Linked DNA regions of Homo sapiens. The protein of the gene in region 1 purifies or fractionates together with the protein of each later gene. This does not show direct contact. Each region holds a gene or a part of one and is shown in the gene's direction. Other genes may lie near its edges. The genes, in order: DGUOK, HPCA, NTM and MAP2.

What was found.
Region 2: the proteins of DGUOK (region 1) and HPCA purify together in Homo sapiens (affinity purification with mass spectrometry; 3 studies listed by BioGRID and IntAct, with this or other methods). This does not show direct contact.
Region 3: the proteins of DGUOK (region 1) and NTM purify together in Homo sapiens (affinity purification with mass spectrometry; 3 studies listed by BioGRID and IntAct, with this or other methods). This does not show direct contact.
Region 4: the proteins of DGUOK (region 1) and MAP2 purify together in Homo sapiens (affinity purification with mass spectrometry; 3 studies listed by BioGRID and IntAct, with this or other methods). This does not show direct contact.

The regions. Positions count from the first base shown.
Region 1 is NC_000002.12:73,936,864-73,943,890, forward strand, and holds part of DGUOK (deoxyguanosine kinase, mitochondrial isoform a precursor), read left to right. Parts: intron 1-2,046; coding exon 2,047-2,159; intron 2,160-7,027.
Region 2 is NC_000001.11:32,882,537-32,889,515, forward strand, and holds the start of HPCA (neuron-specific calcium-binding protein hippocalcin), read left to right. Parts: upstream 1-3,954; 5' UTR 3,955-3,979; intron 3,980-4,961; exon of another isoform or gene 4,962-5,027; intron 5,028-6,341; 5' UTR 6,342-6,362; coding exon 6,363-6,740; intron 6,741-6,979. UniProt on the Homo sapiens protein: Calcium-binding protein that may play a role in the regulation of voltage-dependent calcium channels. May also play a role in cyclic-nucleotide-mediated signaling through the regulation of adenylate and guanylate cyclases.
Region 3 is NC_000011.10:132,304,602-132,311,628, forward strand, and holds part of NTM (neurotrimin isoform 9 precursor), read left to right. Parts: intron 1-1,693; exon of another isoform or gene 1,694-1,867; intron 1,868-3,087; coding exon 3,088-3,222; intron 3,223-5,510; coding exon 5,511-5,631; intron 5,632-7,027.
Region 4 is NC_000002.12:209,693,047-209,700,073, forward strand, and holds part of MAP2 (microtubule-associated protein 2), read left to right. Parts: coding exon 1-3,304; intron 3,305-3,495; coding exon 3,496-3,702; intron 3,703-3,870; coding exon 3,871-4,005; intron 4,006-7,027. UniProt on the Homo sapiens protein: The exact function of MAP2 is unknown but MAPs may stabilize the microtubules against depolymerization. They also seem to have a stiffening effect on microtubules.

The DNA.
Region 1 (7,027 bases):
GCAGAAAGGAGGACTAGCTAATCCAGCTTAGAGGTGTCAGGATCTGGAAAGGCTTCACACAGGAGGTTCATCTAAACAGAACCTTGAGGATTGAGTAAGAGTTGGTCAGGTGAGGAGAGGAGGCGCTTCAGGAAATGGGAAAGCATATGCAAAGTCATATTTGCAAGAGAACATGGCATGATTGGAGTTTGGTCCTGCAGGAGGGTAGGCTACCTAAAGGAAAGCCAAGGCCAGAGAGGCATACACAGGGATCAGATCTTCTTGTGTCTTGCAGACCATGTTAAAGAGTTTGGAGTTTGTCATGAAGCTTGTTCAGGTCTTAGCTCAGATGTCACTAACTTCCCATTGCACTTAGAATAGAATTCAGACCTCTTACCATGGCCACAAGGCCCTATGTGATCTGGCCCCGGACTGCCCATGTGGCCACACCCATCTTGAGCCACTCCTCCATTGCTTGCCCTTGCTATAGCCAGTTAGCCGATAGAGAGCTGTCAAAAGATTGTAAGCAGTGTTATTTCATATTCAGTCTGGCCACAGTATGGAGCATGGATTGAAGAGAGCAAGGCCAGCATCAGAAAGGCAAGAGATGATAAGAGGCTGGTCTTGAGCATGGAGGTGGGAATGGAGAGAAAAGGACAAATATGAAAAATGTAGAAGCAAATGCAGAAGGATTTGGTGGCCACTGAGGTTTGGCAGAGGAGGGACTTCTGTCAGTGAGTGGATGGTGTGTTCATACCCTGAGGTCTGGGATACAGGAGGAAGCTCAATTTGGTGGGAAAGATGATTAGTTCATTTAGGAAATATGTTGACTTTGAGGTGTTTGTGGAATGTCCCAAGTGGAGATGTCTGGAGAGTTCTTGAATAGTCTCTGGAGCTCATGGAGGTATGGGCCAAACATTGGTATAAATGGGAAAAGATAACTTGAATGTTGTGGTACTAGGTTGATTTCATCTCCAAAATATTTCTCGAAACAACCACTACTTTTCACTCCTCTGCCATCACCTCGGGGCAAGCTGCTATATCTTTTAACTAGTCTGCCTGCTTCTGCTTCAGCCCATTCTTACACAGCTAGTGGAGTGATCTTCTAAAAATGAGAAGGAGTCTTATAATTTTCCTACTTAAAACCAATCTTCACTAACTTCCCATTGCCCTTAGAATAGAATTCAGTCTTCTTACCATAACTACAAAGCCCTGTATGACCTGGCCCTGGACTCCCTGTCTGGCCACACCCATGTTGAGCCACTTCTCCATCACTTGCTCATGCTGTAGCCATACTGTATGGCTTCTTCTAGGGCCTCAAACTTCTGTATTGTTGTGTGTCAAGTTCTTTCTCTCTTTCAGGTCTTTGCATATGCTACTCCCTTTGCATGAATTGTCATCTTTTAGGTCTTACCTCAGATGTCATTTTTTCAAGGGAGTCTCCTCTGACCTCCTGGGCTATATTAGTGCCATCCTGCATTTTTTCCTAGCACCTAACACAATATGTTAGTAGTTAATTGTGCGTTTGTATCACCCATACAAGCTCTGTGACGACAAAATCCATTCTGTGTTTTGTTTACCATTGTACCCACAGTTCCTGACAGTCCTGAGCTCATAGTCAGCACTCCATGAATATTTTTTAGATTTGTTGAATGAATGAGATTATAATCATTTTTATTTTTTGTCTTGAAAAACTTAGAAATTTTACACTGTCACAGTACAAATAGAATGGTGACTCAAGTGATAGAACTTATGGAGCTGATTTCATCTACTTTTACATTTTCAACTGTTATTAAATGCTCTGCCTCTGGAAGGTTGAGACATGGAAATTGCAAATTAAATCTTAAAAGGAATTTTTCCTCCCTATTGGCTGTATTCATTATGGTGGTTCTGGTTAGCATGAATTGATCTGTTATCAGTCTGACAATGGTACGGCTGCTGAGTTTGAAATTCAGAAAACTAATACTTGTTCCCTTGAGTTTGGGCGTTTGTGGCAGAGTTTAGTAGCAGCCTTCTCCTTCAGCCCTGATTTGGGAAGCATCCCAATACATGCTATTTGCATTGCAGCTGTGGGAAAGTCCACGTTTGTGAAGTTACTCACGAAAACTTACCCAGAATGGCACGTAGCTACAGAACCTGTAGCAACATGGCAGAATATCCAGGCTGCTGGCACCCAAAAAGTAAGTTTTTAGTTGTGGTGGGTAGTTGGCAGGCATGGGTGAATAATCTAATTGTCATAATTTAATTTACTCTCAGTGAGTAAAGTAGCCCAGTTTGAGTATCCTTTTTAAAATAGCTTCATTCCAGAAAGCAGACCACATACACCAGAGAGGATATGACTTGTTTGAATATGTGCAGTTTTGATTTTTGTGGTTTTTATATGTCTATCTAAGTGACTGCCTCTGTTGTTTGTGGTTTCCCAAAGCATGTCCAACCATCATGGATGGCTTTGAAGATGAATTTTGTCATTCCTACACTTAAGTATTTATATTATTACTTAAGCTAACCACTAGGATTAATAGCTAATTATAGTGATTTTAACTTTTTAAATAAAGTCTTAGAAATTAGAAGGGATATTAGAGAGGTTCCAGTCACACTTTGAGTCAATGGGAGAGGTTACAGCTAACATTTATGAGCATGTACTATGTGCCAGGCACTGTACTATGCCAAGCACAGTACATTTCACTTACACCTCATGGCTTAGGCCCTGGTGTCAAGACTATGGCTTTGGCAGAGGCCATAGAGTTGGTTTCCAGCCACATCAGTCTGAGTAAGGAAAGACTTGTTTCGACATGACCCTTAGAGGGAGCAGAAGCACCATGCCTCCTCAGGCACCATGAACTGCTCCTGCCGCCACCTGGGATATTCACTGAGTGGCACATTCTGGTTCTTAACTCTAATTACTAAACAGTTCTGCCTTTTAATGAGCCATGTTGCACCCCTGTGACTCTGACTCATTGGTTCAAGTTCTACCTCTTAAGTCTTTTAACTTTTCGCCGTAACAACCCTATATATAGTTGAAGGTAATGATTTTCCTGTTCTTTCTCCCCCTCAAGTCTCTCTCCTTTTTTTTTTTTTTTTGACAGTCTCATTCTGTCACCCAGGCTGGGGTGCAATGGTGTGATCTCGGCCCACTGTAACCTCCAACTCCTGGGTTCAAGTGATTCTCATGCCTCAGCCTCCTGAGTAGCTGGGACTATGGGTGCATGCCACCATGCTGGGATACTTTTTGTATCTTTAGTAGAGACAGGGTTTCGCCATGTTGGCCAGGCTGGTCTCAAACTCCTGGGCTCAAGTGATCCACCCACCTTGGCCTCCAAAGTGCTGGGATTATAGGCATGAGCCACCATGCCTGGTCAAGTCTTCTCTCTTTCAAGCCAAACACCTCCAGTTTTCCTCCAGGCTATTCTTTACTCTGAAGTAACTTTACCTAAGTGATGAGTCCTAGTTTGTTCACTTTCCACTTTGAATTTACTAAGAGTGCTACTTGGAGGTGAACAGGACATTCTGGATGTAGTCTAAGTGGGACAGAGTATCATGGAACTTGTTCTGGGTGCCATTTTTTTTTATTCCAACCCAGAATTGTGTTACCTTTTGTGGCTGGCATATCATGCCTATTGAGGATTTTTGCTGCTTAAGTTGTCTCTTTATATGTCTGTATGTGTGCCTGTGTGTGTATTTGTGAAATTAACTTTCCTATGCAGGAATAAATTACATATCTTTTTCTGAGTATGCCACAGGTCACCTGTGTGTATTTCAAAATACAGTCATGGGCTGCATAATGATGTTTCTGTCAATGATAGACCTTGTATACAATGGTGGCCCCATAAGATTATAACAACATATTTTTACTGTACCTTTTCTATGTTTAGATACACAAATACTTACCATTGTGTTACAGTTGCCTACAGTATTCAATACAGTAGCATGCGATACAGCTTTGTAGCCTAGGAGCAATAGGGTGTGTCATATAGCATAGGTGTGTAGCAGGCTATCCCATCTAGGTTTGTGTGAGTACATTTTCTGATGGTCACACAGTGACAAAATTGTCTAACGACACATTTCTCAGAACATATTCCTGTTGTTAAGTGGTACATGATTGCATGTCCACAATTGTTTGATATTCCTCCCTTCTAGAAGTAGAGCGTAATTCTTGCCTTGAATGCAGCTGGACTTTGTGATTTGTTTCTAGTAAATAGAAAGTAGCAAAAATAAGAAATACCTTTCTAGGGTAGGTCATAAGAGACACTGTAGCTTCCATCTTGTTCTGGGGGAAGCCAGCTGCCATGTCAGGAAGCAGCCTTTTCAAGGGGGCCACACGGAAGGAACTGAGGCCTCCTGTGAACAGGTACGTGAGTCTTTTTGGAATTGGATCTTTCAGCCACAGTCCAGCCTTCATACAACTGTAGCCTCAGCCAACATCTTGACTGAAACTTCATGAGAAACCCTGAGGCCCAGCCACCCAGCTAAGCTCCTTCCCAAATTCCTTCCCCATAGAAACTGAGATAATGAATGTTTTTGTTTAAGCCACTGAATTCTGGCATAATTTGTTAGGCAGCAATAGATAACTAATCATCCTGTAATCCCATTATTCAGAAGTAAAATGGACATTTTTCTACAGAGAAAATGTATAGATTTACATATACTTACATAAATGTATAAAATATATATACATTTGCTTTTTGAAACAAAAATTTTGATTGCCACCTGTATGTCACTTAATAGACAAGATCTCCCTTTCACAGTGATATCATTTTAATGGTTGTAGTGTACTGCATAATATGAATATTATCATTTAGTTATCCAGTCCTCTATTTTGAATGTTTAGTTTTCTAATTTCTTCCTATTATAAGCAGTGTTGCAATGATGAATATCATTGTAGCTATACTGCTTGTTTTTTAATATAAAGCCATGTTTTGTGTATCTTTTTGTTCTTTAGTGAATTGCCTGTCCAAACCCCTTGCCTTGTTTTTTTCTATTGAGATCTTCATCTTTGTGTAATGGCTTCATAAAAACTCATTGTATGTTAAGTATATTAACTCTGTCATATATTTGTTTGTCATTTTCTTTTTTTTTTTTTTTTTGAAACGGGGTCTCGCCTTGTCGCCCAGGCTGGAGTCCAGTGGTGTGATCTTGGCTCAGTGCAACCTCTGCCTTCCGAGTTCAAGCAGTTCTCCCTGCCTCAGCCTCCTGAGTAGCTGGGATTACAGGTGCCTGCCACCACACCCAGCTAATTATTGAATATTTAGTAGAGATGGGGTTTCACCATGTTGGCCAGGCTGGTCTGGAACTCCTGACCTCAGGTAATCCACCTGAATTGGCCTCCCAAAGTGCTGAGATTACAGGCGTGAGCCACTGCGCCCGACCATGTCATTTTTCTTTTATCTTGGTATATAATATATTTTTACAATATAATACATTTCAGTTTTTATGTAGTCTAACCTGTCCTTCTTTTTCCTCATAGTTAGCACCTTTGATGTTAAAATTGTAGCCCAGGAGTATAAAAATAATCTATTTCTTTTTGTTGCTTTTATGGTTTTATGTTTTATGTGGCTTTACAAGTTATAAGACTTTAGTTTTTTCACAAATGGTTATCTACTTAGCCAGTAGTATTCTTGTTTATTCCTGAGCAGAATATATATTTTGTTTTTATTGTGACTGAGATCTTTTTTCCACATCATCTTCTGAAACTGGTTATTGCTGTTTTAATGGAAAACAGTTGATTGTTATATTTATCTTATATGATTTAATTTCTCATTATTTTTTTATTTGCTTGAAGTTTTGGAAAATAATAGTTGTCTCTAAATAGTAATCATTTGAAAGAGTTTTCTAATATCTGTGCCACATTTCTATTTTCTTGTTTTCTTTCATTGGGTAGAACTTCCAGAGCAATATAAACTAATAGCAGTGAGGGTAGTTTCCTTATCTTGTTCTGTCATTAATGAAACTGCCTCTAATATATCAGTGTTAAGTTTAATGTTTATTATTCATTTCAGTAGACCGTGTGGTACACGTACCCTTTTGTTACTAGAATAGTAACTGTTTTTATCATGATCAAATGTTGAATTTCCATCAAAAACCACTTTAGCATCTAGTGAGATAAACAAGGGGTTTTTCTTTTTAATCTCTTAGTATTAGTCATAGATTTAATAATGGTACCATCCTCACATTTCTAGAATGAACTTTTTTTTGGTCATGATGTACTATTCCATTAATTTGGTAATGTGTTGTTTGGAATTTTGCATGTATATTTATTTATACAGTTGGTTGGTATTATTATTTGTGTGTATGGTGATTTTTGTTTGTTTTGACTTTTGGGTTCTTTTTAGGCAGGGTCTTCCTCTGTCACCCAGGCTGGAGTGTAGTGGCATGATCATAGCTCACTGCAGCCTTGAAGTCCTGGACTCAGGTATCTTCCCACCTCAGTCTCTTGGTGAGTTGGGACTATAGGTGCATACCACTGTCCCCATCTACTTAAAAATTTTTTTTTTTTTTTTTTTGTAGAGATAGGGTCTCACTTTGCTGCCCAGGCTGGTCTCGAACTCCTGGGCTCAAGCGACCCTTCCACCTCGGACTCCCAAGGTGTTGGGACCACAGATGTGAGCTGTGATGCCTGGCCCATGTGTAGTTTGTGACAGGTTTTACCATCAATGTTATGAAAATAAATGGAGAAATTTTGCATCTTTTCTAGCATAGAAATGATCTATTCCTTGAAGGTATGATAGAAATCATCTTTAAGATTATATGGATTCAGTACTGTTTGAGGGGAATCATTATTGGACAACTGTTTTCTGCCTCAGTTATTCAGGTTTTTTTTTTTTTTTAAGATGGAGTTTTGCTCCTGTTGCCCAGGCCAGAGTGCAATGGCACGATCTCAGCTCATTGTAACCTCCGCCTCCCAGGTTCAAGCGATTCTCCTGCCTCAGCCTCCCAAGTAGTTGGGATTACAGGCATACCACCATGCCCGGCTAATTTTGTATTTTTAGTAGAGACAGGCTTTCACCATGTTGGCCAGACTGGTCTCGAATTCCTAACCTCAGGCGATTCA
Region 2 (6,979 bases), on another chromosome or scaffold:
GACCCCCAGGCCCCCACCTCAGAGCCCGCTGTGCTCTAGGCTGGGGTGGGCAGGGCCTTTTGGAAAGGGGTGGCTTGGGGTTTTAATCACTTTTTCAATGTTTGTTTGTGTAATTCAGCCCCGAAATGCTTTTCCCTCCATCTGTCCCACCATCTGCTCCTGTCAGGATTTTCCAAACCGTTTGGGACCAAAGAGGCAACAAGGTGGGGGATGGGGGGTAGGGGATGGGGGTAGGGTGGCTGGGCCTCTGAGGGGGCTGGGGAGGGGCCACCTTCACCCACTTCATTGAGAGGTTTCCAGAGAGGGCCTGGGCTCCTGAGTCACACAGAACTGGGTTCAATTTTTTCTTTTTTTAGAGACAGGGTCTTGCTTTGTTGCCCAGGCTGGAGTGCAGTGGCGCAATCATAGCTCAAATTCCTCAAAATTCCTGGGCTCAAGCAATTCTCCCACCTCAGCCTCCCAAGTAGCTTAGACTACAGGCGCCTGCCACCATGCCCAACTAATTTTTGCTTTTTTTTTGAGACGGAGTCTCACTCTGTTGCCCAGGCTGGAGTGCAGTGGCGCAATCTCGGCTCACTGCAAGCTCTGCCTTCCGGGTTCACGCCGTTCTCCTGCCTCAGCCTCCTGAGTAGCTGGGACTACAGGCGCCCACCACCATGCCCGGCTAATTTTTTTGTATTTTTAGTAGAGACGAGGTTTTACCATGTTAGCCAGGATGGTCTCGATCTCCTGACCTCGTGATCCAACCCCCTTGGCCTCCCAAAGTGCTGGGATTACCGGTGTGAACCATCGCGCCTGGCCAATTTTTGCATTTTTTTGTAGAGACGGGGTCTCACTTCGTTGCCCAGGCTGAACTTGAACTCCTGGCCTTCAGTGATCCTCCCTCCTCAGCCTCCCAAAGTGCTGGGGGTATGGATGTGAACCGCCACACTTGGCCAGAACTGGGTTCAAATTCTGACACTGTTGCTTTCTTGCTGTGTTACCTCAGACAGGTGACTTTACTTCTCTGAGCCCCAGTTTTCCTATCTGTAAAATGGCAGTTAACATTATTGATTCCTCAGAATCATTGAAGATCCAGTGAGGTGACGTGTGCAGAGAACTCTATACACTATAGGTGCTTGAGATATCACGTCTCTCTCTCTCTGGCATCCCAGGAGCAGTTCTGTCCCTCCCTTGGTAGTGCTAGAGGAGGGTAGTCGGCCCTGATTTATGTGCCCTCTCCTGCCTCCTCAGATGCTGGGGACTTCCCCTCCCCTGGAACTTGCTCGCCCTTCCATGGACCCTGCCACTGCCTGGCTCTCTCAATTACCTGCCTCTGCTTCTACCCCACCCCTGCCTCTCCCTCCTTCTGGGTGCCTCAGTCTGAGGTGGGAGGGACTAAGTATCACCAGCAAGGACACAGCCCCACACACAAGAGGCTTCCAGGGTCAGGAGGCCTCATTCATTCATGCTTACATCACCTGTCTGAACTCTCTGCTCAGAAAGGGGAAGAGACTTGCTCTGGGTTGTCCAGATCGAGGGACCCAGGCCCGCTGCCCAGCTGCCCCTCAGCCCCCCTTTTCATGGCCATATCTTAGAGCACTAGGGCTTGGACCAAAGGCCGTGTTGTGCAGTGTGGGGAGCCCTGAACCTTCTTTGGCTGTTGGGGGGTGGGCTTGCAATGCTTCTTAGTCCCTCTGAAAGGTGCAGGTGGCTGATGGGAAGTAGCAGCAGAACCCACTAGGGCCCACACTCTGCCTCCAGAACCACCTACACAGTCTAGGTGCAGGGAAAGACAAAGGCAGGAGGGGCTCATGGGGATGCGAGACATGGCCTTGCCTTCCAAAACCCCTATCTACTGGGGAGACAGAACACAGACTGGGGGTCCGAAGGCAGGGCACCAGAGTCACCCTCAAAGAAGAAAGGTGGTTGGTGGTGGGGGTGGGGAGAAGTCAGCCCCTGAGGGGGTGAGCCTGCAGGAGGCTGAACTGGGGAAGTGGGGAGAAGGCAAAGAGGGAGCTGAGCAGCCCAAGATGGGGATAAACTGAGTCCCCCAAGGATAAAGAGGAGGATCCAGACCACTCAGGAGAGAGAGGAAGGGGTGATGGGGGAGGGGGCTGAGGAGGTGAGGGAGGGTGGGACCGTCTCCCCGACCCCAGCACAGCTGGCCCCCCAGGCCTGGTGGGGAAATGGGAGGGAGCTTGCCACTGGAGGGCCCTGGGGTGGGGGCTGAGCAGCGAGTCTCTCCCAGCCCCCAGGTCCTCACGCAGGAGGCAGCTGGGAACCACCCACGCTCATCTGGTGTCTCTCACGCCTCCACTGGGGGTCCCAACATCAGAGCCAAGGCACACAGTGAAGCCGGTGTTCCGGAGAGCCCAGCTGTCCCCACCCCACCCCGGCTCCTCAGTTCCTCCAGCCGAGACCTCCCCACCTGCCTCCAAGCAGGAGGGACTAAGGCTAGACTCTGAGGACTTGAGAGGCTCAGTCTGGGAGCCTGGAGGCGGAGCCCTGGGGTGCCAGGAGGGGCTGAGCTGCCGATGCTGAAGAAACTCTGGGCTGGGAAGGGCCCTCTGGGCAGATGGCAAATGCTGCCGGCTTTACCTGCGAAGTAAATCCAGAAACCAGACCCACCCCGGCCATCTCTCAGCCTGAAATGGCCCCTTCTCCCACCTTGCCCCCAACTCCTCAAAGTCTCTTCTTGACATAATAACCCAAGGAAGCTGTCCACATGGAGGTCACACCCTCTCACTCTGCTCAAAGCCCCCCAGGACTTCCCATCTCATCTGGAATAAAAAGCCTAAAGTCATTGTCATAGGCCCCAAGGCCCTGGATGGCCCCAATGGCAGTTACCATTCTAACTGCCACACCCAAATCCCAACGTTTAAAAACACATGTCTAATATCGACATGTATATTGTGTCCATTGTTTATTGTCTGCGCCTGTAGTCCCACTATCTAGACAGAACAATGCTGGCCGCAGAACTAGTGTTTTATATGTATTTGTGGAATGAATGGATGAGGGCGCACACACTGGAAAAATCACTTAACCCCTTTGAGCCCATTTCTTCATGGGGACAATAAGGACCAACCCCTAGAAATGGAAAAAGGACAAAATCTCAGCCCAGCATGCGGAGAATGTTGCTGAGGCTGGGGGCAGGAGGAGCTGGGCTAGGGGTCATCGACTCTGGAGAGGAGCTGTGCGGTCGGCAGGCAGTGGGTAGGTGCCACAGGATCCCCAGGCAGATGTTCTGCCCTCCTGTCATGGCCTGCACAATCAGAGGCTGGGGAGGGAGGAAGGGAGGGGGTTTCCTTGATTGGAAGGGGGAGTGGGAGGAGCAGCTGACACCAAAGTTGGGAGGTGGGATTAATTCTGAGAGGGGGGTCGGGGTGAGGTCTGGAGTGGTGGGTTTGACATGGGGGCCGGCTCGCCAAGGTGGAGGTGGGGAAGGGGGCGTGTCTGGTCCCCTACCCCGAAGACCTCAGTAGCTGGAGGAATGGGCGCTCCACGCTCCCAGCTCCGTTAGTTGGGAGTTGAGGCGCAGGAGCAGGGAGGGTGCCCAGGGTGCCAATTCGGCCCTCGAAGCGACGTGCGGCTCAGAGCCCAGGTGGGTATGGGGAAGGAAGCGGGGCGGAGTGGCCTGGGATCGCCCCCGGCTCAGGAGAGAGACCTCTTGGCACTACCGTGTCCCTCCATTCCGGCCACCAGAGCCGAGGTGCCGAGGAGAGGGGCGCCGCGATCCTCCTCCCCGGGCAGGGTGCTCCCTCGAGGGGGACCGGGGAACTGAGGGCGTCCCCTTCTCTCCGGGGCGGGGGTGGGGGGCGGAGCCCAGCGCGCCGCTCCCCAGCCCCCAGGGCTGGCGGGGACCCCCCCAGGGGAGGGGCTCCGGGTGAGCGCTGCGGGGCGTCTCCCTCGCAGTCCCGCCCGCCCCTCCTGCCGCCCCTGCCGCGCGCGCCGCAGCAGCGCCGCCTTCCCTGCGCAGTCGGTGTCTCCGCGTCGCTGGGTGAGTGGGGGCAGCTCCAGCCGGGGCCGGGGGATGAGGGCAGGGGGTTCCCGGAGCTGGGGGCCCACGTCCAGGGCTTCCCAACACCGCCGCTCCCGGGCTTCCCGGGAATCCTTGCCCCGGGTGGCGGGGGCGCTGGGGACTGGGAAGCGCGCGGTGCTCTCCAGGGTCCTGACCGCCGAGTGGCCGGCCCCTAGGAACCGCGTTCGACCGCCCTGGAGCGCCCCCTCCAGGAGGGGCCACGCGCCGGGCGCTGTCCTAGTGCTGAGCGGATGGAGGCGGGGGCTGGGGGACAGAGCTGAGGGAGGTTTGGAGCGGGTCCCCGGGGCTGGCTTCTCAGGTCGAGCTGAGGGGGTTCTTCCCATATGGGGGACTGGAGGTCTTTGCGGGCAGCTGAATCTTCTTGCAACCGGGAGGGGCAACTCCGAGGGTGGCAGGGCCCAGGGGGCACTGGAGGAGCTCTCTTGCTCCGCGCATCTCTCTGCCCCCACCCCGGTGACCCAGTTCCTTGGACCTTGAGGAGGGCAGTGCGGGACATGCCCCAGCCCTTCTCATTTCCTTAGCCCTTTCCCACTCACTTGTCCGGTGGGTCCTTAGCCTGGGCCATAAGAGGCTGGTCTAGAAAGGAGGGGCACCAACTTACAGAAACATGCATGTGACACACCGCCGAGGACACACACGGGTCCTCCAAATGGCCACACGGGCTCATTCCCTCACGCTGTGACGGGTGCATACCTGATCACATGCACATCTGAGGCACATGCAGGGACATAGATGGAAAGACACGGCAGGCAAATGCAATGCAAAAACCAGCGGCACACATCATGCATGAGCACATGCACTCACAACACACCCATTCACATGTGTGCAGAGCTTCATGCACATGTATGCACAAGGAGGCCCCTCCTTGCCCTAAGTGGGTGGGGGTCACCTGCACACACGCCTACATCCTTGTGCAGAACTGGCTGGCTGTTTCCTCTTCATTGCCTTCTACTCAGCCTCCACAATCTAACCTGCACTCAGGGGACCTTTCAGGACTAGATGAAGGGTAAGTGTTGGGGAGGCTTGGATGGGCTTGGTGGGGGGTCTCCTTGGAAAAGGGGCCCCGAGCAGGTCTGGGAAGGTTTGCAGCTCCCTCTCCTGGGACCTGGCAGCACCCCTGGGAAAACAGAAGGAAAACAAAGAAAAATGGCAAGGGTGCCTGAAGGTCCCACGTGCAGCTGGCCATGTGAGAGGTGTCGGCATGCGAGTTGGCGTGTGATGGCATGTGTGAGACATGTGGGGTCGTGGGCTGGTGTGTCTTGATGCACAGGGTATGGGAGTTGTGCGTGGTGCCATGTGTCGATTCGTGTGAGTTGTGGAGCAGAGGGAATGTCGTCATGTGTGGAGGCATGCTGACCCATGGGTGGGCGTGGGCTGGTACGTGAGTGGCATGGGATCCAGGGTGTGGATCTGGTGAGCTATGAAGCATACAGTTATCGGTATACATTCATTTGCACAGTTTTTGCATGAGTTTTGTGGCACCTGGGTATATGTAAGTCATTTTTATTTATTTAACATTTATGTAGCACTTATCTATGCAGCCATGGTTCTAAGTGCTTCACACATATTAACTAATTTAATCCCCAAAACAATCCTCTTAGGTAAGTACTGTTATTACCCCACTTTAAAGATAAGGCAGAGAGAGTTTAAGGAACTTGCCCAAGGTCACATAGCTGGTAAGAGGAGGAGCTGGGATTCAAACCTAGGTGATCTGACTCTGGAGCCCACAGTAACACCTCCCTCTGCTGCCTCTTGTTGGGCACACCTGTCAGAGGGAGAACAGGGCAGTGTCTGGGCTGCGGGTATATTCAGTGCTGAGCAGGCACATGTGAGGCAATGAGAAGGCAGTGGGTAGGACGGAGGAGGATCAGAAGGTTTTTCTGCACCTCTGTGGGCAACTCTAGGAGTCAGCCTCATAATGCCATGGCTGTGTGACCTGAAGCAGCCACCTCACGTCTGTAAGCCTGCCTTCTCATCTGTAAAATGGGGCAAATCCCCATACAACCTGTTGCGAAAGTGAATTGGTGTGCATTTGTGAAGGCTTAGTGGCTGGCACCTAGAAGGGCCTCAGTAAATGTGAACCACCCTTCCCTTCCTCCCTCTCCCAGGAAAGCGTATGGTCCAGGGAGATGGTGTGGAGCATGGCATAGATACAGGATGCCTGGGTCTAGGCTGTGTGACCTTGGGCCAGTTCCTCTCTTTCACTGGGCCAAACAAGAGGCAGGGATGGCTGTTGGCAGGGGGGCCCATCTGGAGCAGTGTCTAGTAGCCAGGAGGGCCTGATCACTCCTCTCTGCCCTTGACCCCCTTGGGGACCCAGGTGGGACTTGGCTCGGCGGCCATGGGCAAGCAGAACAGCAAGCTGCGGCCCGAGATGTTGCAGGACCTGCGAGAGAACACAGAGTTCTCAGAGCTGGAGCTGCAGGAGTGGTACAAGGGCTTCCTCAAGGACTGCCCCACAGGAATCCTCAATGTGGATGAGTTCAAGAAGATCTACGCCAACTTCTTTCCCTATGGTGACGCCTCCAAGTTTGCCGAGCACGTCTTCCGCACCTTTGACACCAACAGCGATGGCACCATAGACTTTCGGGAGTTCATCATTGCGCTGAGCGTGACCTCGCGCGGCCGCCTGGAGCAGAAGCTCATGTGGGCCTTCAGCATGTATGACCTGGACGGCAACGGCTACATCAGCCGGGAGGAGATGCTGGAGATCGTGCAGGTGGGCCCCTGGGCCCCTCAGAATGCCAGGCACAGGGCCCGGCAGCTTGCACCCACCACCCCTTTTGATCCTCTCAGCAGACCTCGTAGGCATGTGGTGGCAGGGGATATTCTTGCAATCCCATTTTAAAAATTGTTTTTAGGAAATATTTCCCATTTAAAGAAAAGTTGAGAAAACTCCCCTATACCCTCTACCCAGATTCACCAATTAACATTTTCCCACAGTTGCTTCATCATTAT
Region 3 (7,027 bases), on another chromosome or scaffold:
GGGTGGTTCAAAGTTTATTTTGTTATGTGTAAACTGACCAACTTTCTCTCTGGTTTTGCCATATATGCCTCTAGTAGAGAAAAAGGTGGGTGAGGAGAAAAGTGAGCATAATGACAATGAAAGCTTAAATTTATTAAGCATATTACTATGTACAAGTCACTTTTTACATGCCTTACCCAACTTAATCAAAAAGTGTACATGTAATAACTGGTGAGCAATGAAGTCATTGTGATTTCTCTGGGATTGCACATTTGGTCCAGGGAACATAGGAAAGTAGGATTAAGCCTCACTGTTCCTGCAGGATGACTTGAGGAAAAATCTCCTTTCTCTGGAATTAGAAATTTGGATCAGTAGAGACCATACGCCTTCCCCAAAACTTGAGCCACCCAACGTCCTTTCCTACACAAGATCACCTGACATAAATATACAAAACTACACATAAATTAATGTGGCACCCATGTCCCCACAGAAAACTGATGAGTTCTCGATTTTGACTGCCTTAATATTTGTGTAACTGCATTTCAGTCCAGGACTGTCATGCCTCCAACAGGCCTTTCCATTTGGATGTCCATGACAAGTTGGCCCCTGCAAATCTCGCTGTGGCCACAAAAGAGCATATTTGAATTATGGAATTGAAACAGATGCATGAACTTTAGCTGGAGAGCACAAGAGATCCAGAGAACCTCTGTCTTTTTGTTTGTTTCCCCGCTTTGGTGATGTAATACACAGCTTCACAGGAGACCTGAGGTCCTATCAGTCCCTGCTCCGACCCTGGAGCTCAATCCAGAAACAGCTGTCCAGAGCTAATTTATTTCCTAATGCTGCGGCACTGTTAATTTATAAATTACACTGGTAATTCGAGCTATTATTAATTTCAGATGGTGTAGGGCAAGCCTAATTAAAATATGACACCAATTGCCACACATATGTACCAAGGACTACCATTTAAAATTAATGGGAATATTAAGTGTGACACTGGTCTCCGAGATGCTTGGCACAGTAATTATAGCATTCTGGCAGGGGAAGATCTGACAAATGTAAGCCCGTGGTTGGTAGCAAATAAACAAGGACAACACAAGAGGAATTACAGATTCTTCATTTAAAGCTCTTCTCAATTCTTCCACCCATCCTCAAATCAAGGTTAGTACCTTTCCCCTAAAGATGCTTATCAAACAATATTCATAAAGGCTACTGAGACCATTAGAAGTGTCTTACTGGTAGGAACTATGAGTCTATTTGGGTTAATGTTGTTTGTCCTCTTCACATCCTGGTCTTTTTGGCTGTGTTTTCTACTTATGAAGAGGTTCCTTCTTTGTCTTGTGAATTTAGTATCTCTTTCTTGTTTGTTGTAATGGACATAGGCTGTTCTTTTCCTCTTCTGTATGTAACAGAGGCAAGAAACCGTCTGTACATACATAGTGTAGTTTGCATATGGCATGAAGATGTATGAGATGAGGCCCCGGTTGGGCCTACTGCTGGGCAGTGGCACAGACTTATCATGGCCAAAGAGTGCTGATCGAATGGAACAAGGCAGTGGCCCTTGTTCACAAGACCATGGTCTTGTTGTTGTTGCTGTTGTTATTGTTATTGTGGTTATCTTGACAAAACAGTGACTTCAACACTGTTATGGAACACATACAATCATCCCTTACATACCGCACACATCATCCCTTGTTGTATCGGTTTTTTACAGCTACTGTTTTCGTGCTCTGGGCCAGCAGAAACACGTGGCATTATGGAAGGGTTTTCTCACCTGGAGAGAAATGTCCCTTTGTTCCCTTTCTTGGGCCACTCATGTTAATACAGTGCTGCACCCCCTGAAGCTGTGCCTCCAACCAGATTATAGGAGTAATAACTAAATCAACAGGTGGGCAGCACACGAGAGTTTTGGAGTGCTTTCGTGCATGTGTGTGTGTGAGTGTGTACATATATATGTAGGCATGTTTGTGTGTTAGTCTAAATAGCCCCGTGACCCTGTGAGGTATTAGGATTGTATGTATATTATGTTTGGGAAAATGCTTCTCAATTGCTAGGGACAGCCTTATGCCTGTTGTCTGCTAATAATCATTAATTACTAGCACCTCATTTCCTTTTAAAGGTATCCAGGTTTAGGATGCTGTCTTTCTAATTACCCTCATTTAAGAGAGAAGGGAGGATAGCTTGGGATGTAAGCCCTAACTTTTGTTTTTCATTGTCTTTTGGCAAGGAAGCGAAGGCTCAGGTGCCTCTGGGAGAGAACTTTGAAATCTCCTCTAGCCTTAAATATCTTGGTCTTTCAATAACTGAGTGCTCATGGCCAGACGTCAGGCACAGAGTCTGGTATGTGAAGCGTTGTTATTATTACTCATAATTTTTCACTGAAGACAATGAGTCCCGCAATGATTAGGGGACTGAGTGGATTCGCAGCCACGTCGCCTGATGAATCTCTGACATGCTTACAACTAGGCATCGAGTGCGGAGTCCCATTGCTGGTCTGTCTTTAGGATCTTGTACCTAGGAGCTCTAGCAGATCGAAGTTTAGCACGTTGATTTCTGCCTATCCAATTAATTGTCTGAGTCAAAAAACAGAAAATTAAATTTTTTATGTTAGTGTTTCTGCTACCTTTGTGATGCACGTGTGTGTGTGTATGTGTATGTAGCTGCTGGTGTGGCATTTTCAATTAATTTATGCTCAAGTGTGCAGTCATAAATTTTATATTCAAGGCTCAGTCTAAGTGATACCTTGAGATCAGAAAGAGTTAAGGTGCCTGACTCAGATCCCAGAGCACGACGGCTTGGTAAGATACAGGCAGTGTAAATGTCAAAATTATTAATCACTTATTGGGACCAGTAATTCTCTAGGCACTGTGCTTTGTTCAGTTAGGAACACAAACATTTCAGCTGTTCCACTGGGGAGCCAAGGAAAAGTTGGTGGTGCGGAGGTGTAGAAGAGACGGAGGAGGGATAACCCACACAGTTCCTCAGAATCTGAACTTACAACTGGCAAATTATCTGCAGACATAACCATTTTATACTTTGTTTTCTAAGTGAACATGTTTGGTCTTTTTTTTCCTTGTATTTCACCACACGTTACCGGTTTTCCCGCAGCGGTTGGCTTTGTGAGTGAAGACGAATACTTGGAAATTCAGGGCATCACCAGGGAGCAGTCAGGGGACTACGAGTGCAGTGCCTCCAATGACGTGGCCGCGCCCGTGGTACGGAGAGTAAAGGTCACCGTGAACTGTAAGTGTTCTCACCACCACGCGCCCTGCACGTGCATCAGGCTGGCCTGTTGTCACAGCCACCACCCAGAGCCCATTGGCACAGCCAGCTACTGACTTAGGGTGGGAAGAATGCAGCACCACTTTCCACACTCTGCTTTCAGGAGCAAACATTTCAAACTCGAGTTTTTGACACTTCAAGGTGTCACAGTGTCACGCTGAAAGAAAAAGTAGCTAAAGTAACTGAAAATAATGCCAAACTTGACTTGCATGGCTGGCAGATCATTAAATGGCATTCAGCTCATAATTTTTTAAACACGTCTTCAAATCCAAAATTTTCCCATAATTTACTCACACAATACAGTTGTGCTGGAGCCTCTCACTGTCTAGACCAGACATCTCCATAATGGGACAAGAAACCATGTGCTAGAGTGTATGAAGGAAGTTTCAAACTTCCATTTATGGTATGTCTATTATATCTCATTATTTTACAATTATAGATGTGCATGGTATACATACAAATAGTTACGATATAGATCTTAGAGGATGTAACAATAAATTTGCTTGTTACTAATAGAGATACAGAATCCAAAAAGTTTGGAAGGTGCTGTGTGGACCCCTCATTCTCCTTTCTCAGCCTTCCAGATTGTCTCTGACATCAATCCTACTTGAATTTGCTACCTCCTTTCACTCTTTTCCCTCTGGGTCCCTCATTATGTACCTTGCCTTAGCTCCCTACAACATTCTGGAGGTTTTCTCTGCTGTGCACATTCCAGGAAGACTTACGAAGCAATAGAACTCAATAACTAAATCGGCAAACGAGATGACTTCCCTTCAAAACTTGGGTGGCGTGGAGTTAGGAGAAGGATACTGTATCTAGGAGAATATCCAGTCTTTCAGATTTAGGTTTGTGTTACAATGTGAACCCAGTCAATATGAAGCGGTTTAAGAAGCAAGGCAATAGGTATAAAAATGCTGTCATTTTAAAAATCATATCACAAGTTTTTACAAAGGGACTTAAGAGGATTTACAGTTTATAAAGATGAACTTAAAACATAAAGAAACAGAAGCAAAGAAAAAATACGCTTAGGAAAATGAGTGAAAGCTAGGAAAACCTCAGCACATGAAATATTACCACAAGACTGCTAGGTGCAGGTGCAGAATTTGGCTCAGCCTTGCTAAAGCAAAGAGGGAAACATCACCTGCTTTAAGATTTATGTTGTCCATAAGATAAAAGCAAATTAGTTGCTTGGGAGAAACACTGCTTTTCGTGGTACTGAGACCCTAGAGAAAATTCTCTTCAGGGTCTCCACAAATAGAGCACTTTGGGAGAGAGTCAGCAACATCATGTACAATATTTCTGCATTAAATAGAATAGCCAGTTTATTGTGGCTGTTTTTCATAATACCCTTTAATATAAACTGGTAGAATGTGAAGAGTAGTTTGGTAAAGACGTCAAATGAATGCAAACCAAGTGCGTAGGCCTAGCTTGGTCACTTGCTCTGGTTTGATTCAGGGATCTGTTTTAGAATACCAAGAATGACTGATCTGTATATCCTTCAGGCAATTCTCCTTGAATATTATTTCTTGCAACTGAGCTTTTGATGGGAATTGAATAGTTCGAGGTTATATACTTTTGGCAAGAACCTGGTGTGCAGAAATTCTAGAAGGCTGATTAAAGGTGCTGACTGTCAACCCGTGGAGTGTAGGGTTGATGGGCTGGCATCATCCTATGAAAGTTAAAAAGTTTAAACAGAAAAAATGCTTGAGTACATGGTCATTTCAACTCTGTACAGAGGAGAACAAAAGCAGTACATGAAAGGAAGACCCAGCTTTTTCTTAGAGCGGCATCAAAAAGGTTTTTATTCTCTGGTACAATTTATGTAGCAGTTTTACCTTCTAAGTAAGCAGAGCCAGGGCAGAGACTGAGAAACAAAATCAACAAATGAAGCAGCCTTCTTCATTTTAAAATGCTGTAGATCAGGTGCAGTGCCCTGTAATCCCAGCCCTTTTGGAGGCTGAGGCGAGCAGATCACCTGAGGTCAGGAGTTGGAGACCAGCCTGGCCAACATGGTGAAACCCCGTCGCTGCTAAAAATACAAAAATTAGGCAGGCATGGTGCCGTGCACCTGTAATCCCAATTACTTGGGAAGCTGATGCAGGAGAATTGCTTGAACCCGGGAGGCAGAACGTGCAGTGAGCCAAGATCATGCCACTGCATTCCAGCCTGAGCCACAAGAGCAAGACTCCATCTCAAAAAAAAAAAAAAAAAAGGTGGGGGGGCGGCTATGAGACATCTTCTTTTTGCAGATCCACCATACATTTCAGAAGCCAAGGGTACAGGTGTCCCCGTGGGACAAAAGGGGACACTGCAGTGTGAAGCCTCAGCAGTCCCCTCAGCAGAATTCCAGTGGTACAAGGATGACAAAAGGTAAAGCTTCCTTCTTTCCTATCCCACCCCTACCCCCATCTCCAGGAGAAACTTTTCCAGGGTCCTGATTCCACATTGTTGCAAACGAGTTCTATAAAATCCTCTTCTGAACTTATCTCTATAGGGGGCAAATGTGCAAAGAAGTCTTTTCTTAACATTAATGGATTTCAGCTACGTTTTTAATGTCACCATGTAGAATTATCACTGGCCAACCAACAGATCTGAAAGGTAACTTTTTTTAGGAAGGCAAAATCACAAAGGAAAGGCCACCAGGAGCATTGTAAGGCCTGTGAATTTTTTATAGGCCAAGAACATAATGTGTTCTGCCTGAAGCTATTTTTACCACATTCTCAGGCTTGCGTAAAGGAGTTAGGAAGGCTCTCAGGGCCCTGGGAGTGGCTAATAAGTTAGCTGCAGCTAGTAGGTCTCCCCTCCTGTTCCAGACACTATCAGTAGCGGTGTATAAGAGTCCATGACCCAATTTAGCCCTCCCTTTGTGCCCAAGTTGTTCTTTTACTGTAGGAGAAAAGAGAAGGGACTATTCCCTTCCTTCCCATTGTCACAGCATCCTCGGGATATTTGTTGTGAGTCACTGAAGATGATCATTTCCAGGCTTTATCAAATGACATATCAGTGCAGGGATCAGTAGCTCAGTACAGCCAGGCACCATGGCAATTGCTGTTATCAAAGAGCCATTTTTAAGGGGGATGAACAACGGGAAATGGGCAAGAGCTGCCTGTGTTCAGAACATTTTCATTGAAAAAGAGGTGGTGGTATAGGGGATGCTAGAGAGTCCTGAGGTGTATGTGGGGTGGAGTAAGAGCAAGGAGTGGGGGAGGCCAGGAGGCTGAGAAGGAAAAACAATGAAGAGGGCATTCTGAGAAGGAGAGCAGCATGAGAAACTGCAGGCCAGGAGCAAGTGAATGGCCGCCCACGCTGTGTGCACGTCTTCAGCCAGCCTTGGCTTTGTTTCCTTATGAGGTCAGTCAGAAACCTAAAGCTCTTTCTAGTCTCTAGATCGAAAATTGAATTTTGTTTAGAACCACGTCAATCAGTTTTAAGATTCACTGGGTTTTATCATAATCCTCCCAAATGAAAAGCAGTGTTTTGTTTTTTTAAAAAAAAATTTTTAAGGACACATTCTGGCAGCTTCTAGTGAGATGTATTATATTCATGTAGCCCATTTTACAGATGAAAGAACTAAGACACAAAGGGGAAAAACAAACTCATGAAGAAATAGAGCTGGCTTTCCCCTTCTTCCAAGAAAGAAGAATCAAGCAGACTGGAGCGTGTTTTTCTGATAAATATGGTTTCCTTACTTAGAAATTCTGTTTCACTTATGCGTTTCCTCTTCGACCTTCTTATTGTACTAAGAAGTAAACTGAGGCATAAAAAT
Region 4 (7,027 bases), about 140 Mb from region 1:
AGGGAAAAAGATGTATTTGATGATATCCCAAAATGGGAAGGGAAACAGTTTGATTCTCCCATGCCAAGTCCCTTTCAAGGGGGAAGCTTCACTCTTCCTTTAGATGTCATGAAGAATGAAATAGTTACAGAAACATCGCCCTTTGCCCCTGCCTTTTTACAGCCAGATGACAAAAAATCTCTGCAACAAACCAGTGGCCCAGCTACTGCCAAAGATAGTTTTAAAATTGAAGAGCCCCATGAGGCTAAACCTGACAAAATGGCAGAAGCACCACCCTCAGAGGCAATGACCTTACCCAAAGATGCTCACATTCCAGTTGTAGAAGAACATGTTATGGGGAAAGTTTTAGAGGAAGAAAAGGAGGCCATAAATCAAGAGACTGTGCAGCAAAGGGATACTTTCACCCCCAGTGGACAGGAACCTATACTTACTGAAAAGGAAACTGAGCTGAAGCTTGAAGAAAAAACCACCATTTCTGACAAAGAAGCTGTGCCAAAAGAGAGTAAACCCCCAAAACCTGCAGATGAAGAAATAGGCATAATTCAGACCTCCACAGAGCACACTTTCTCAGAACAGAAAGACCAAGAGCCTACCACAGATATGTTGAAACAGGACTCGTTCCCTGTAAGTTTGGAGCAAGCAGTTACAGATTCAGCCATGACCTCTAAAACACTGGAGAAAGCCATGACCGAACCATCTGCATTAATTGAAAAGAGCTCAATTCAGGAACTTTTTGAAATGAGAGTTGATGACAAAGATAAGATTGAAGGAGTTGGAGCTGCAACATCAGCTGAGCTTGATATGCCATTTTATGAAGATAAATCAGGAATGTCCAAGTACTTTGAAACATCTGCCTTGAAAGAAGAAGCAACAAAAAGCATTGAGCCAGGCAGTGATTACTATGAACTGAGTGACACTAGAGAAAGTGTCCATGAGTCTATTGATACCATGTCTCCCATGCATAAAAATGGTGACAAGGAGTTTCAAACAGGAAAAGAATCCCAGCCCAGTCCTCCAGCACAAGAAGCAGGGTACAGCACTCTCGCACAGAGTTATCCATCAGATTTACCTGAAGAACCCAGTTCTCCTCAAGAAAGAATGTTCACTATTGATCCAAAAGTGTATGGAGAGAAAAGGGACCTCCACAGTAAGAATAAGGATGATTTGACCCTTAGCAGGAGTTTAGGACTTGGTGGTAGGTCTGCAATAGAACAAAGAAGCATGTCAATCAATTTGCCGATGTCTTGCCTAGATTCCATAGCCCTTGGATTTAACTTTGGTCGGGGACATGATCTTTCTCCTCTGGCTTCCGATATTCTAACCAACACTAGTGGAAGTATGGATGAAGGGGATGATTACCTTCCAGCCACCACACCTGCACTGGAGAAAGCCCCTTGCTTCCCTGTAGAAAGCAAAGAGGAAGAACAGATAGAGAAAGTAAAAGCTACTGGAGAAGAAAGTACTCAAGCGGAGATATCATGTGAGTCTCCTTTCCTAGCCAAAGATTTTTACAAAAATGGTACTGTCATGGCACCTGACCTTCCTGAAATGCTAGATCTGGCAGGCACAAGGTCAAGATTGGCTTCTGTGAGTGCAGATGCTGAGGTTGCCAGGAGGAAATCAGTCCCATCAGAGACTGTGGTTGAGGATAGTCGTACTGGCTTGCCCCCGGTAACTGATGAAAACCATGTCATTGTAAAAACGGACAGTCAGCTCGAAGACCTGGGCTACTGTGTGTTCAATAAGTACACAGTCCCATTGCCATCACCTGTTCAAGACAGTGAGAATTTATCAGGGGAGAGTGGTACCTTTTACGAAGGCACTGATGATAAAGTTCGAAGAGATTTGGCCACAGACCTTTCACTGATTGAAGTGAAACTGGCAGCAGCCGGAAGAGTCAAAGATGAGTTCAGTGTTGACAAAGAAGCATCCGCGCATATCTCTGGTGACAAATCAGGACTGAGTAAGGAGTTTGACCAAGAGAAGAAAGCTAATGATAGGTTGGATACTGTACTAGAAAAGAGTGAAGAACATGCTGATTCAAAAGAACATGCCAAGAAAACTGAAGAGGCTGGTGATGAAATAGAAACATTCGGATTAGGAGTAACCTATGAGCAAGCTTTGGCCAAAGATTTGTCAATACCAACAGATGCATCCTCTGAGAAAGCAGAGAAGGGTCTTAGTTCAGTGCCAGAGATAGCTGAGGTAGAACCATCCAAAAAGGTGGAACAAGGTCTGGATTTTGCTGTCCAGGGTCAACTAGATGTTAAAATTAGTGACTTTGGACAGATGGCTTCAGGGCTAAACATAGATGATAGAAGGGCAACAGAGCTAAAACTTGAGGCTACACAGGACATGACCCCCTCATCCAAAGCACCGCAGGAGGCAGATGCATTTATGGGTGTTGAGTCTGGCCACATGAAAGAAGGCACTAAAGTTAGTGAGACAGAAGTCAAAGAGAAGGTGGCCAAGCCTGACTTGGTGCACCAGGAGGCTGTAGACAAGGAGGAGTCCTATGAATCTAGTGGTGAGCATGAAAGTCTCACCATGGAGTCCTTGAAAGCTGATGAGGGCAAGAAGGAAACATCTCCAGAATCATCTCTAATTCAAGATGAGATTGCCGTCAAATTGTCAGTGGAAATACCTTGCCCACCTGCTGTTTCAGAGGCTGATTTAGCCACAGATGAGAGAGCTGATGTCCAGATGGAATTTATTCAGGGGCCAAAAGAAGAAAGCAAAGAGACCCCAGATATATCCATCACGCCTTCTGATGTTGCAGAGCCATTGCATGAAACGATCGTATCTGAACCAGCAGAGATTCAGAGTGAGGAAGAAGAGATAGAAGCCCAGGGAGAATATGATAAACTGCTCTTCCGCTCAGACACCCTTCAGATAACTGACCTGGGTGTCTCAGGTGCCAGGGAGGAATTTGTGGAGACCTGCCCAAGTGAACACAAAGGAGTGATTGAGTCTGTTGTGACCATCGAGGATGATTTCATCACTGTAGTGCAAACCACAACTGATGAAGGGGAGTCAGGGTCCCACAGCGTGCGTTTTGCAGCCCTAGAGCAGCCTGAGGTGGAAAGGAGACCATCTCCTCATGATGAAGAAGAGTTTGAAGTAGAAGAGGCAGCTGAAGCCCAGGCAGAACCCAAAGATGGTTCCCCAGAGGCTCCAGCTTCCCCTGAGAGAGAAGAGGTTGCACTTTCTGAATATAAGACAGAAACCTATGACGATTACAAAGATGAGACCACCATTGACGACTCCATCATGGACGCTGACAGCCTCTGGGTGGACACTCAAGGTGTGCATTATTATTATTATTATTTTAACTCAAACACAATAACCTTATGGGAATTTTTTTTCACTTAAACATTTTAAAATACCTCTTTATCTCTTTATTTTGTATTTTGTTAAATATACAAAGGATTTTGTACACTTGTTACTAATGTTTTCACTGTTGTTGTTGTTGTCATGATTTGCTTTGATCCACAGATGATGATAGGAGCATCATGACAGAACAGTTAGAAACTATTCCTAAAGAGGAGAAAGCTGAAAAGGAAGCTCGGAGATCATCTCTTGAGAAACATAGAAAAGAAAAGCCTTTTAAAACCGGGAGAGGCAGAATTTCCACTCCTGAAAGAAAAGTAGCTAAAAAGGAACCTAGCACAGTCTCCAGAGATGAAGTGAGAAGGAAAAAAGGTTCATTTAACAATCACTTCTTTAAAAATGTTTTTGAAGTAATTCATTATTACTTTTTTGCAGAACTGCCTAACAGTGGTAACTAATTATTTATAAAATTTCGTTCGGTTTTGCTCCACGTGTTTATTTTTTCCTGATGGTATGCTTTTTGTGTTTTCTTATTCATAGCAGTTTATAAGAAGGCTGAACTTGCTAAAAAAACAGAAGTTCAGGCCCACTCTCCCTCCAGGAAATTCATTTTAAAACCTGCTATCAAATATACTAGACCAACTCATCTCTCCTGTGTTAAGCGGAAAACCACAGGTGACTGTTCAATTCTGCAATGTGACTGGCAAACATAGACATGTATTTTTTTTTTAAATCTCATTACTGTAGCAGCTTCTTCATTTTGTTTTTCTTCCAAGAATCTCAGCAGTCATGAACAATTTTGCTATTAAGTGTCTTGTATCATTATTCTTTTTTCCCCCCTCCTTACAGAAAAGGTCATGACCATCTGTTTCTTTGTCATGCTCAGACATAACAGTGCGTGATTGTATCTTGGCATTGTGCTCTAGTGTCACGTTCTGGGGATTCCTATTTTCATTCTGTGTGTTTGGTTAGACGATGGCGATGAATTTAACTGTGGTATGCATTCTCATTATTTTGCTTATTTATCTCTCTCATGCTTAAACCCATAAATATTTGTCCTATTTTCTACATTGTTACTGCCAAATCTGTTACTGATGTTGATGAATTTATTGAAAACCACCAAGAATGTGTAGTGATTTAGATACTGAAAATGAAAAGCAAGCCAGGAAGTGAAATTGTGGTTTGCAAAATTACTATTACTTTGCTTTTGCTGAAAAAAAGAAGATAGAAAACAAAATTTTCTGGTAATTATATCAGATTTTATTCCTCATATCCAAAATTAACAAGATTTTCACTCTACTGAACTACATCTCTTAGCTGACATTTTGTCATGGAGATTTCTTAAATATGTTGGATCCAAACTGCTCGACTTTTCTATATAATTTAGTTTCACAAATTTGAAGCTAAAACTCTTCCTTTTAGGAGGAACTTCAGTTAGAAATAAACTTCGGTTTATTTTTACTTTGCTGTCTACTTTTTTTTTGTTTCCCAAGACGGAATCTCGCTCTGTCGCCCAGGCTGGAGTGCAGTGGCACGACCTCGGCTCACTGAAACCTCCACCTCCTGGGTTCAAGCAGTTCTTCTGCCTCAGCCTCCGGAGTAGCTGGGATTACAGGCGTGCACCCAGCTAATTTTTTTTTTTTTTGTATTTTTAGTAGAGACGGGGTTTCACCATCTTGGCCAGGCTGGTTTTGAACTCCTGACCTCGTGATCCACCTGCCTCAGCCTCCCAAAGTGCTGGGATTACAGGCATGAGCCACTGCACCCGGCCTGCTATCTACTTATTACTCTTCTTCAAATACATATTTTTTCCTAAGTTTATAAAACTGGTAAAACAAAGGAATGAAACTTGTTGGAAACCATCATAAAAACCCCTACAAATATCTGTAATGCCAACTTTTTTCTAAATTTCAGGGCAAAGTATTTATTTTATATGTTTAATTATACTAGGATAATCTTACCTTACACTATATTTTATTTTAGCATTTATTAAGTGGCATGCTTGTAGTCTACAAAATGACAGATTGCTAAATCAGAAAAGAATGTTTTTCTTTCCATTGTACATCATCAATGCCTCTATATAAATCTTCGGATGGTTTTAAAGGTTAAGAGGAACATTAGCCTTTGTGAGAAAGAGAAAATCAAGGTAACTGATGGTTTTATTTTAGCCATTGAAAATTCCAAGTATTTTGTATTTGTGTTCTTCATCTAGAAATCATATCATGTGCTTTCCTTCAAAAACAAGAATCTAAGGCAGGATTTGAAAATAGAAGGCTTGTATATACGCACACCTTGATAAAGCTTCAGGATGAAGAATATATCTGAAGCTAGGAGTTAGGAATTAACGTGACATACCTCAATTCATTTTCTCAGGTTTTTAGCTTCATTAAACTTAGAACTTCATTAAACTTAATAGCAAATTAATAGCTTCATTAAACTTAGTAGCAAAATTGCTTGGGCAAGCAGAATCTCTTGATTTAGCATAAAAACTCTATAACCTACCTAAAAGGATGAAAGATGTCATCAGGATTGTGGAATTTTAGAGAAAACGTAAAATGGTTTAGTAAAGTGTTTACATGTCATTGGTATTCAATTTGCCACATTTAAAGTAAATTGTGTTTTTATTCATTCTTTGAAAGAAATTTAAAATCTTTGAACTAATGAAGATTTTCCTTTATTCTGGTCTAATGTTAAGATACTTTAGGAGAAAGCATGTATCAGATGTAGGTGTCATTGGTTTGAAGCAAGCTATACATGTCACAAGAATTTGAGTTATATTACAGAGATAGTAGTAAGGCATCGTTTTCACTGCTTCCTTAAAAACAATGAGTCCTAGAATCTGAAAAATCTCACTAGCTAGTCCTACATGGCATAAAGCATATTGTAGACAGTTATTATGTTTGTGTCAGAACTGTACCTGTCATAAAAATACCTTTTTAGAACTTATTCAGAGGGCTTATAAGGATACATTTTTTTTCTGAGGGTTTCTATTTTATGAATGAAAATTAAGGAGGAATAAACACACAAGCTTGATTATTTTATCTTCTAAGCCCAATTTTCAAACATAGATGGTTTTCCAAACCACAAGGGATTGTTTTAAATCATGAGAGCTAAGCTACCTCAGGTAAGTCATCAACCAAAATGTGCTAGAGATAATGGAGTTTAAAATTGAATCCAGAAGCATAAAACAGCAGCAAGAGAAACAACAGTAACAGATGTGGTAATAATTTCATACAGGAAGTGCATGTGTAGAACATGTTCTGTATTTACTGAACTTAAATTTTCTCTCGTGTTTTCTGTTCTTGACAAGCTATTTTTCTTCCCTTCTCATGTGGCATTTTCACATCAAACAAGTATGTCATTCATATTGTGAAATGAAGGGATACAAAGGGAAAGGGGTTAGCTGATCATGACAGTTTGAAATGTAAAATACCGAAATATCTATGGTTATGCCAGTGGCTTCCAGAACAAGAAGAGGGTTTGGAAATCTCTATGAACCCTCTTCTATATATCATGTGAACCCCAGAAACCAATCAGTGTTCTTTTTCTTAAATTTTGCAACATTCACATTGCTATTCTGTAACTTCTGTTCTAAAGGATCTCCTTACGTACTAGTGATTCAAAGATACATTGGTAATCAATAGAAAAATTACGTGGTGTGCTTACCTGCACTTTGGTAGACAATGGGTTATATTAA